Linked DNA regions of Homo sapiens: region 1 is linked to region 2. The links come from fine-mapping of genetic effects on gene expression. A gene starts in region 2. The other region holds a variant in brackets. All regions are shown on one strand. Distances are from middle to middle.

Region 1 (5,373 bases), 110 kb before region 2:
GAGACAGAGTCTCGATCTGTCACCCAGGCTGGAGAGCAGTGGCGTGATCTCGGCTTCCTGCAAGCTCCGCCTCCCAGGTTCATGCCATTCTCCTGCCTCAGTCTCCCGAGTAGCTGGGACTACAGGTGCCGCCACCACGCCCGGCTACTTTTTTGTATCTTTAGTAGAGATGGGGTTTCACTGTGTTAGCCAGGATGGTCTTGATCTCCTGACCTGGTGATCCGCCCGCCTCGGCCTCCCAAAGTGCTAGGATTACAGGCGTGAGCCACCACGCCTGGCCTGTAAGTGCTAGGTCTTTATATGACTGGTAGCGCACTAGGTTTGTTTACACCAGCATCACCATAACCACATGAGTAATGCATGTGCAAGCATGTTACAAGGGCAATAATATCTCTAGGGGATAAAAATTTTTGTGTCTATCACAACCTCGTGTGACCACTGTCGTACATGAGGTCTGCCACTGAACAAAATGACAGTATGTGATGCATGCCTGTATTGACTATCTGGCCCTTTACAAAAAACATTTGCTGGCCCCTGTTCTAAAACATGCAAACCACAACGGAAAAGGATACAGACACTTGGTTGAGTCAAAATCTGTTTTCTGCTGAGCCTTTGGAGGAACTAGGCATAGTGTTTCATGATGATTACTCTCACTCATCATTTCGTTTAATCCTCATAATAACTTTACTGAATATTGTCACTAATTCCATTTTATAGATGAGGCGAATTATGCACAACTAAATGAAGTTACTTTTTTTTTTTTTTTTTTTTTGAGACAGAGTCTCGCTCTGTCACCCAGGCTGGAGTGCAATGACACGATCTTGGCTCACTGCAACCTCCACCTCCCGGGTTCACGCCATTCTCATGCCTCAGCCTCCCAAGTAGCTGGGACTACAGGCGCCCACCACCACGCCCGGCTAATTTTTTGTATTTTTAGTAGAGACGGGGTTTCACCGTGTTAGCCAGGATGGTCTTGATTTCCTGACCTCGTGATCTGCCCGCCTCCACCTCCCAAAGTGCTGGGATTACAGGCGTGAGGCACCGTGCCCGGCCTTTTTTTTTTTTAAAAAAAAAAGAGATGGAGTCTCACTCTTTCGCCCACGCTGGAGTGCAATGGTGCGATCTTGGCTCACTGCAACCTCCGCCTCCCGGGTTGAAGCAATTCTCCCATCTCAGCCTCCTGAGTAGCTGGGACTACAGGCGTGCACCACCACGCCTGGCTAATTTTTGTATTTTTAGTAGAGACCGGGTTTCATCACATTGGCCAGACTGCTCTTGAACTCCCGACCTCAAGTGATCTGCCCGTCTCGGCCTCCCAAAGTGCTGAGATTATAGGCATGAGCCACTGCGCCCGGCCGAAATTAAGTAACTTTTTAAGCTGCATAGAACAGTTTAGTCTTGGAGGCATAACAGGTAAACATTTACTTATCCAAATTTCTCTTTCTTTAGAATGAGATCAAAGTAGAACTTCAGACAAGAACGAGTGTACATTCACAGTAACCGCATGTGGAACCATCATTTTAGGCAATTCCCTTCAGGGAAAAAAGTAAAGTAGATTGTAGTGTTCTTTCTTGTCCAGGTTCTCTGTTACACAGGTGTGTTCAGTTTGTGAAAATTCATTGAGCTTTAGAATTAGGAAATGAGCACTTTTCTCTGTGTGTGTGTGTGTGTGTGTGTGTGTGTGTGTGTGTGTGTATTATACATGAGTAGTAAGTTTCAAGATGACTGCTGTCACTGGTACCTTGATCACAGACCTGTAAGCTAACTCGAGCTAAACACACCAGTAGTGGTTTGTCCAGGTTCCTGACCCACAGAAACTGTAAGATTACACTTTTTGTGGTTTTAAGTTGCTAAGTTTTAGGGTAATTTGTTACTTAACAATGGATAATACAGCTTGAAGCAGACATCAGTATTAACACTGAAAAAAGAGATAGATAATAATCCTAGAGAGTCAAAAGAATACTAACTCAAGAAAAAAATCAAGGCCAATAAACTCTGCAAATTAAAGACAGATACAGGGATACGGTATTCTATTATTTAATAAATACTTGTAGGGGCAAGGCACAGTGGCTCACACCTGTAATCCCAGCACTTTGAGAGGCCAAGGCAGCAGGATCGCTTGAGACCAGGAGTTCAAGACCAGCCAGGGAACACAGACCTTGTCTCTACAAAAAATTGTTAAAAATCAGCTGGGGATGGTGGCACAGTCCTGTCCTGAGCTACTCAGGAGGCTGAGGTGGGAAGACTGCTAGAGCCCAGGTTGAGGCTACAGTGAGACAGGATCCTGCCACTGCACTCCAGCCTGGGTGAAACAGCAAGACCCTGTCCCAAAAAAAAAAAAAAAAAAAAGAAAGACCACATTGTAGGGATGTCAATTTTGCCCACATTTCTTCATAGGTTTATTTGATTCTAGTTAGAATGATTAGATAAGGGGAGTTCTTAAAGAACAGGACATAACTTTGTAACCACTATCTGGAAGAACAAACAAGCAGAATTAGTTAAGATCAATTTTAAACAGAAGGACAAATTAGAGGATGAACTCAGCCACGGAGGAATATCCTATGAGAGAAAACAGCCCATATGTGAAGGCTCAGTTCACAAGTCACTTTCTTACCCCAGGTTGTATGCTCTGTTAATATGTTGTATTTTTATTTCTAAGCACTTACTGTTGTAATTACATAACTGGCAACTATATAATCATTACTGTAATGATTC[A/G]TGGACCTCCCTGTCACAACTGTGAACTCTAAGAGATCTGGTGAGTGTTTGTGCTGCCAGTACCTACTAGTCTGTGTACAGAGGGCTCACAAGGATCATCCAAGCAGACACTCTCACGCACTGATCATTTAAGGCTAAAATACAACCACCTCTGTGACGGGAAACCTGGCAAAAGCCTTTAAGCCTTGCTTAAAATGAAGATCTTAAATGGGCATATCTTTTGACTGAGTGATGTACTTCCAGGAACCTGGTGAATTTTGTACAAAGCTATGCATTATATATGTTTATAACAGCTAAAAGCTAGACATAACTTGTCAGCTACCAGACTGGATTATTTGACAATGACATTTAGAAAATGTGGTTATAAGAAAACTGATTGCTATAATGAAAAAAAATTCCAGGTTATGAAAATGTGGAATTAAACACAAGGTACGAATACAACAGTGCTTAAAAATTACAAACTCCCAAGTCTACATCCTAAATAGAGAACGGAAGAAAATATTCTAAGGTATATTTTATGTTTATTTTTATTTACAAATACAACCTGGGTATTCTAGGGGGAAAAGTCATTATACTTAGTGCACGAGCAATAACTCTCCCCTAGAGAATGCAGACTTCCACCCTGAGAAAAACAGCATTTACATCTCCTTCTTACCTTGTCTACAACTTTATTGCACATTAACAACAAGCATCGTTTCCCAGCCCTAACAGACTGAATTCGTTAGAACAAAAATATCTGATACTTGGCCAGGCGCGGTGGCTCACGCCTGTAATCCCAGCACTTTGTGAGGTCGAGGCGGGCAGATCACGAGGTCGGGAGATCGAGACCATCCTGGCTAACACGGTGAAACCCCATTTCCACTAAAAATACAAAAAATTAGCCGGGCGTGGTGGCGAGTGCCTGTAGTCCCAGCTACTCGAGAGGCTGAGGCAGGAGAATGGCGTGAACCTGGGAGGTGAAGCTTGCAGTGAGCCGGGATTGCGCCACTGCACTCCAGCCTGGGCGACAGAGTGAGACTCCGTCTCAAAAAAAAAAAAAAAAAAAAATTTGATACCATTTTACCTATCTGAGAAAGGCAAACCATAACAACTCAAACCCCCTACATGGCATCAGAAGGCAAGAGACCAGGAAACCCATTGCATCTCACCTTTTTGTGAGTTTGCCCTGTAGTTCTGTCCTATATAGACACATAGCAAAGAAACGTGTATTAAGTAAAGATCAAAACAAGAGGTCCTATCAGGACTCTCCTTTATTTGTCTCCATACATCACATTTTGCTCAATGTCTCTACACATCTCTCTTTTTTTTTTATTACATCAGTGCTGCTGGCTATGTAAACAACAGAAGATACTCAAATGACAGAAAGGTAATAAAAACTAGTTTTGATTTCTTAGGCAATACTTTACCAATACTGCAAAATCAGAAAATGGCAAATATAAGAAGAAATTCTACACTAAAATATGTTAGCTGGGGTATCCAAGAGTAAGTGATATGGATTTGTGAGAATGAAATAAACTCAAAGATTATGATGGAATAAAAACCCAACTGCAGAATAAGCCAAACACAGCCTGGAAATTTACGTGTACGTCCTCCATCTACAGTGTCCCGTGATGCCTAATGATCGGTTCTGGTTTGTCACAGGAGACAGGAAACATCACTATGGTTGGTTAATTAGTTCTTGGCGCAAGAAATGCTTAGAAAGATCAGAATTACTCACGTGATATCTCTTCGTTGATAGCAGCCCTGAAGCAGGCAGGCAATCAGGTCACTGATAAACTCCACGTCATCTCTGTGAAGAGCGGCTTCTAACTCCTGAGGGAGGGAGAGAGGGAAGTTGAGAAATCAAACAGAGATTTCTTAAAATACACACCCCTTCCTACCGCCAGCACAAGCCCCAAGAACTGAATGGTCCCAGCAGCGGAAGGACTTGCCAGAGATCAGCTCTGCCCTTCCTTCTGGCTACTGTGAGAAGAGCAACCGGATTCCGCGTTTTCTTTTTCCCAGGGTTTTATTTCTCTCACTACTCCCTCCCCAACCCCATTCCTCTTACCGGCACATGAGAAGAAACACACATAACTCTTTTTGATAAATCAATGCTAGCTGCATAATTAAAGAGCTTAACTCTTTGATTATATATAATCGAGTATAAATACAAATGTGCTGTACTGCTATTTTAATCGCAAAAGAGAGGAAAGGAGTGCTCATGTAATTGTTTATGAAACATTTGTCATTTACTCAACCTTCTCAAGAGATAAACCATCTGCAACAGCTTTAAAGAACCACTGTATTTTGAATGGCATTTGTTAGTAAGTGATAATGACAATTTTTATTTTGGGATGCCACACCTACATGGCTGATGAAAGGTGATTGCGAGATCCAAGGCTAATCTTACATCATCTAAACAGAATGAGGTAACGTCTCTGTGAATGTCTTTGCTTTCCTTGGGGTTCAGCTTGCCTCGACACGGTATTCCAACAAGCAATTGTTTGGAAAGGGACCACTGGACAAAAAGTGGTGGTGGGGAACTTTAGGAGATCCTATTTCCCTTCCCAACACCCCCAAAATAAGCAGGTATTTTCTTAGATGACAGAATGTTTTCTAGGCCATCAAGTCTCCTACTAGAAAAGTTTGCCCACATTCTTTCAACCAGGATGCAAT
Region 2 (5,373 bases):
GCTGCAGTGCAATGGCACGATCTCGGCTCGCTGCCACCTCCGCCTACCGGGTTCAAGCGATCATCCTGCCTCAGCCTACGGATGTAACTGGGATTACAGGAGCGCGCCACCATGCCTGGCTAACTTTTTATATTTTTAGTAGAAACGGGGTTTCATCATGTTAGCCAGTCTCGTCTCGAACTCCTGACTTCAGGTGATCGACCCACCTCGGCCTCCCAAAGTGCTGGGATTACAGGGGTGAGCCACCGAGTCGAGAAAATACATTCTTAAATCTTAATTTTTAAATCTCACATATAATCATTCCCAATAAAATTCTAATTTTTGATAACTACTAAAAAGCGTAAGTTAAAATTTCCATTAGCCATATCAAAACATACCTGAGATGGATTAGACAAAAACTGCAGGTGAGAAAAGTCACTTTGTTATCCACTGACTGAACATCTCCAAATAAAAACGAGTGTGGATAGTTCTTAAAACCTGCATGTTTGAAGCCAAATATTCATTTCTGTTGCATGTATTTCAAACAGCATGTATTTTAGCCCCAAAAAAGTGTCATTTCCAAGAAACACTGGAGTCAAAAGAGAGGACAGTCATATCAAATAGCCTTGATTATTCACCATGTAAACTACAGTGATTTTTCATGTTATACATATAAATTTGACCTCTTTAATCAGTTTACATTTCCTTTAGGAATTAAACCAGCTAATTCTCAGAAACCACAAGTTTATTGCTTATAACAGAAGACAAGTTATTTACAGGTTACTCTAAATATGCTGCGAGTACTTAAGGCAAAATGAGTTACCTCTAGCTTTTCATCAACAAAATGGGAATACATGGATTTTGAGACATAAAGTTTTTCCAACAATATTTTTAGGATGGGTCTTTAAACTCTGAACTCATAATCCCAGCACCACCTCAACTTTATCTCGCAAGGAAGAAAAGGGACTAGGTGCAAGTTTACCAGCACCCAAGATGGCCCTGTCACAGGCGGCACCTCCCACCACAGCCACCATTTTGACTGCAGGATATAATTAAACTACTCACGATTTTGTACCAACTGAAAGAAAACACAGGACATCAGAGTAACTGAGAAACATCCTTTGACCTTTAGGATTCCCAACTCTTTAGCTTCCGTGTCTCTGTTTCTCTTCTTTCGTCAATATTAACAGTTGTCTAAAGAATATTTTCATTAATAAAATTATGCTTGCTACATTCACGTTCAAACTTTGAAAACAAACGCTGTGGCGCCACGTAAAATGCCCGTTATTACCTCTTCCTAAAAAGTGGAGAAGCCCACATTTCCTCACATTGTTTTAATCAGCTTAAGGAACTAAGAATCGCCAAAAGCCAGTGAGTGGCCCTAGACTATCTGTCTACATTCCTCTTCATTCTCCCATCCCCAACCCTTTTGATCTTTTTATTTTCCTGATTTCATTAACTGCGACGAGAGCAAGTTCCCACACTTCATTCACAGAAGAAGCAACTGATATTTCAGCAAACACGACTAAATCTAAAAATAAAGGTGAGGCAAAGAGCTCTGAAATAAACGAGTTAAAATCAACCCGAAAATGGCACAAAGTAAGATCCGTGGGGCTGGGGAGGCAACAACAACGATTTGCTCTTCCAAAAGAGTGGCTCTAATTTTGATTACTGCGTCGGCGAACCCATCCGCAGAACAGAAAACAAAAACTGACCAACGCAGTTGCCATTCACCTTTGTCCAAAGGCAAAAGGTGAAAAGTCACGACACATATTGCCATAGAAGAGAAGGCAATTCAACCTGCCAACCAATCGACTAATTCTCAGCTCCTTCCAAAAATAAAAATAAAAATAGGAGAAAGGGGGCTGCCGCTGGGCTGGCCGATGCCTGGCCGCCGAGTGCGCCGCGCTCCGCAAGCTCCCGCCACCCGCCGCGCTCCAGGACCCTCGGGTTTCGGCCCAGTTATCACAAAGCCCCGGGCTGGAAAACACCTCCGGCCTGGCCAGAATGGCCAGCCCGTCCTCCGCGCTCGCCCGGGGGGATAATGGTGGCGAGATCAACTCCAAGGGCTCCCGAGCCCCGCGATAAAGAGGCTGGATATTACGGGAGGAAGGACGCTGTGGAAGAATAACGGAGTCCCAAACTTTCCTTCCACACCTCCAGAGCCCCGCGCCCAGGCCCGGTCCCCACCGGCCCGAAGTTGGCCGGAGCGCCTCCCGGGAGCTTGGGGCCTCCGGGAGCCCCTGCCACGCGCCCGCCCGCCAGAGCGGGGCTAGCCCTCCCCGCCGGCCGCGGCCGACTCCCGCCCCGGTCCGAGTTAATCCCGCGCGGGCCCCCCCCCCGCGCCCGGCCCCGCCGGAGCAGCTGGCTCGCGCCTCAATGGCACCGGGCGGCGAGCGCGCGCAGCCCTCGCGCCCACACCCAGCCCCAGCCCACCGGAGAAGTCCCGGGAGGGTCGCCGGGTCCCGCTCCCGCTCCCTCTCCCACAAAAGCACGGGCCCGCCCCGCCCTCGCGGTGCCTGCTCCTCCACCCCAGGATCCGGCGTCCCCGGCCCGACGCCCCTCGGCACCCGGGCACAGCCCGGCGGCCCCCGCCCGCCCTCCTGCCCTTTTGCGCCCTCCTCCTGGCCCCCGACTCCCGGCCGAAGTCCCTCGGGCCCCGGCCCCTCTGCGCGACGGCCCGGGACACCCCGCGCGGGGCAGGGGGAGCAGGGGGCGCAGCGCGCCGCCTCCCGCCCGCGCGGCCACTCACCTCGATCTCGAAGTCGGGCAGGCGGAACGCGGTGCGAAAGAGCGAGCAGAAGTGCGCGATGGCCGGGACCTCCCACCAGGAGCGGAGCTCGCCCAGCCCGGCCGCGCCGCCCTCCTCTGGGCACATCTCCCCGCTGCGGCACAGGCGGCGGCCCCTCGCTGCCCGCGCTCTGCCCGCCGACCTGGGACTCCCGCCGCGGCAGCGCCGCAGCCTCCGCGCGGTCCTCGGCGGGGGCGGCGGGGCGCTCCTCCCGCTGCTGCCGCCGCTCGGCGAGTGCAGGAGCCGAGGGCGGGCGCCGGGCGGGGGGCGGCGGCGCGGGGGCCCGAACTACTGAGGCGGCTGCGGCTGCGGCTGCCCGCGGGGTCCGCGCGCTCGCCCCATCCCGCGGCTGCGGCGGCGGCCGCCCCCAGTCCCCTACAATATAATCGAGTCCCCGCCGGAGAAACAGATGGGGCTAGGGGCGGAGGGGCCGGACGCGGGGCCTGGGGGAGGGGCCGCCCACGAGGAGGGGGCGGGGCTGCCCGCGCCACAACAACAACCCCCGCCCCCGCCCCACCCCCGCCCGGACAGCTGCACCGCCAGGGAGGGGGAGGGGCGGGGCGCGCGCCCCCGGGCCCAGATCCGCAGGACCCAGGGGGCGCGGGCCGCACCCCCGAGAACTCTCACGAGGCGCCCTCCGCCCTCCAGGACTTTGGGACTGGGGAGTTGAAGCACTTTCCCAAGGGAGGACGGCCAGGAGCTCTCCCACCCCCACTTGGCCTGAGTGGTCGCGTCCTTTTAAAGGGCCCGCGGGGTGGTCCTTTCGGTCGGGCTAGAGACAGAAACGTGCACGTGTGGGAGTTCAGTTATTATTGATGCCGAGGGCAGAGCCGGAGCAGGAGCGGGCTGTCCACCCTAGAAATATGAAGCCTAGAGAAGTGAAGTGCTTTCCACCTGTTTCTTAACGCTTTTATTCCAGCCGAGAACGGCGCCCAAGGAGCTCTGAAGTGGCTTTTTTCTCCGAGGGAAGAAGGCGGTGGGGCTGATTGAGCTGGAACGAAGTAGGATGGAGGCTGGAGAGCGGCGGGAAGGGTGGGGTAGGGGGAGGCACCAATCAGCAGCCAAGCGGGAAGAGCGATCCCCAACCCCAGGGAATGGACACGTGTGACCGCCCCGGAGAAGACGGGCTCGGAACCCTGCTACTGCCCGGCCGCTGAAAGAGCTGCCTGGAAGAGTGAGCACAATGTGCTTGGAAGGCGGGGGGATGGGGCAGAGGAGATCGGGAAGCCGGGGACTGTGCTCGGAGGGGAGGAGACCCCCACGCCCCGGCGGAGGGATTGAATGTGCTACGGCCGAAGGGTGTTGGAGTGTGTGCTTTAGAAATGCTAACTGCTGTAGCGCGGTGGAGTACTGCTAAATCCTAAGAAAAAAAATCACCCCAGAAACAGGCTAGAAGTTTGGAAAAACTCCATTGAATGCTCAGATATTTGTATTGGTCGTCGCACTTGCATCCTGCTGGTCTCAGAGGGCCGCCTCTGAGTTCGGTGGTCCACCTTTCAGATAGGAAACACTGCTCCTGGTGCGTCCCCCAAATTAATCAACTATTTATTGAGTGACAGGCACAATCACAAAGTGTACAAGGGTTAAACTCAAAGATCCTCTTCTACCTTTAAGTAGTGTACAATCTGGAGATAATTTATATGATAGATTTTGGAATGGGCTGTCTGGATAATTACCCCTCCACTCTCCCTCACTTTATTATGATAATAACTTGTTGTATTTTTTAAGGCAGCATTCAGAAACATAATTTTAAATGGTTAGAGTATATTCACGTGCATCTTCTGTGAATCTAGTAATCTCAAAATACATCATCTTCTAACAAGGGTCTCCTCCGCCCCCCACCACTCTCTCCTGGCACAGAAAAACAACCCAAAGTTCTGCTCTTTCATTCCCTGGAACTATTTGATGATTTAAAGTGCATCCTCAAATTCTACCATGCTTTTTATTTAATGTTTGGCAAAAATGAGCTCACATGTGACTGCTCCCAAAAAGCCAAGCCTACGTTTGTGTGTGTTGGTGAAGCACAGCTACCCCGTGAGTATTGCATTAGCAAGGGAGATGGGAGAGGGACACAGGCCACCCCGGAATTGTCACGTAACCTGAACGAGGTGCTTTCTGGACTTGCTTCTCCGTCTTTTATTTCCTCACAGTTTGACTTTGCACACTTTTTCCTCTGTGTGAGTTGGCCGGGCGCGGTGGCTTACGCCTGTAATCCCAGCACTTTGGGAGGCCGAGGCGGGTGGTTCACCTTAGGTCAGGAGTTCGAGACCAGCCTGGCCAACATTGTGAAACCTCGTCTCTACTAAAAATACATAAAATTAGATGGGTGTGGTGGCAGGCGCCCGTAGTCCCAGCTACTCGGGAGACTGAGGCAGGAGAATCGCCTGAACTCGGGAGGCAGAGATTGCAATGAGCCGAGATCTCGCCATTGCACTCCAGCCTGAGCAGTAAGAGTGAGACTCCGTCTCAAAAAATAAAAATTAAAAAAAAAAAGTGTTACTGCGTTTCCCTGCCTTTATCTTTTGTCATCGTTTAAGCTTCTTCCCTCGCCTCTCAGTTGTCACCACTAGCCAGCCTAGTAATATTAGTGCCTAGGATATTAA

Alleles and levels. Alleles are on the strand shown, and positions count from the first base shown. SD is a standard deviation of normalised expression in the study named.
As copies of G replace A in region 1, the expression in esophagus muscle of the gene that starts at base 3,181 in region 2 goes down (moderate effect, 0.42 SD a copy in GTEx).

What was found.
Region 1: its variant is fine-mapped to the expression of CECR2 in esophagus muscle (GTEx, PIP above 0.99).

The regions. Positions count from the first base shown.
Region 1 is chr22:17,476,742-17,482,114 of GRCh38, reverse strand. CECR2 (CECR2 histone acetyl-lysine reader) reads right to left here. Exons shown (of 19, transcript NM_001290047.2): 2 at 4,433-4,527. Among named protein-coding and RNA genes, the nearest start is that of SLC25A18, 84 kb to the left of the region's middle. The variant A/G (reference allele first, on the strand shown) is at 2,716.
Region 2 is chr22:17,367,268-17,372,640 of GRCh38, reverse strand. It overlaps CECR2 (CECR2 histone acetyl-lysine reader), which reads right to left and starts at 3,181. Exons shown (of 19, transcript NM_001290047.2): 1 at 2,732-3,181. The coding sequence starts at 2,857. RefSeq lists silencers at 2,744-2,843, 2,854-2,923.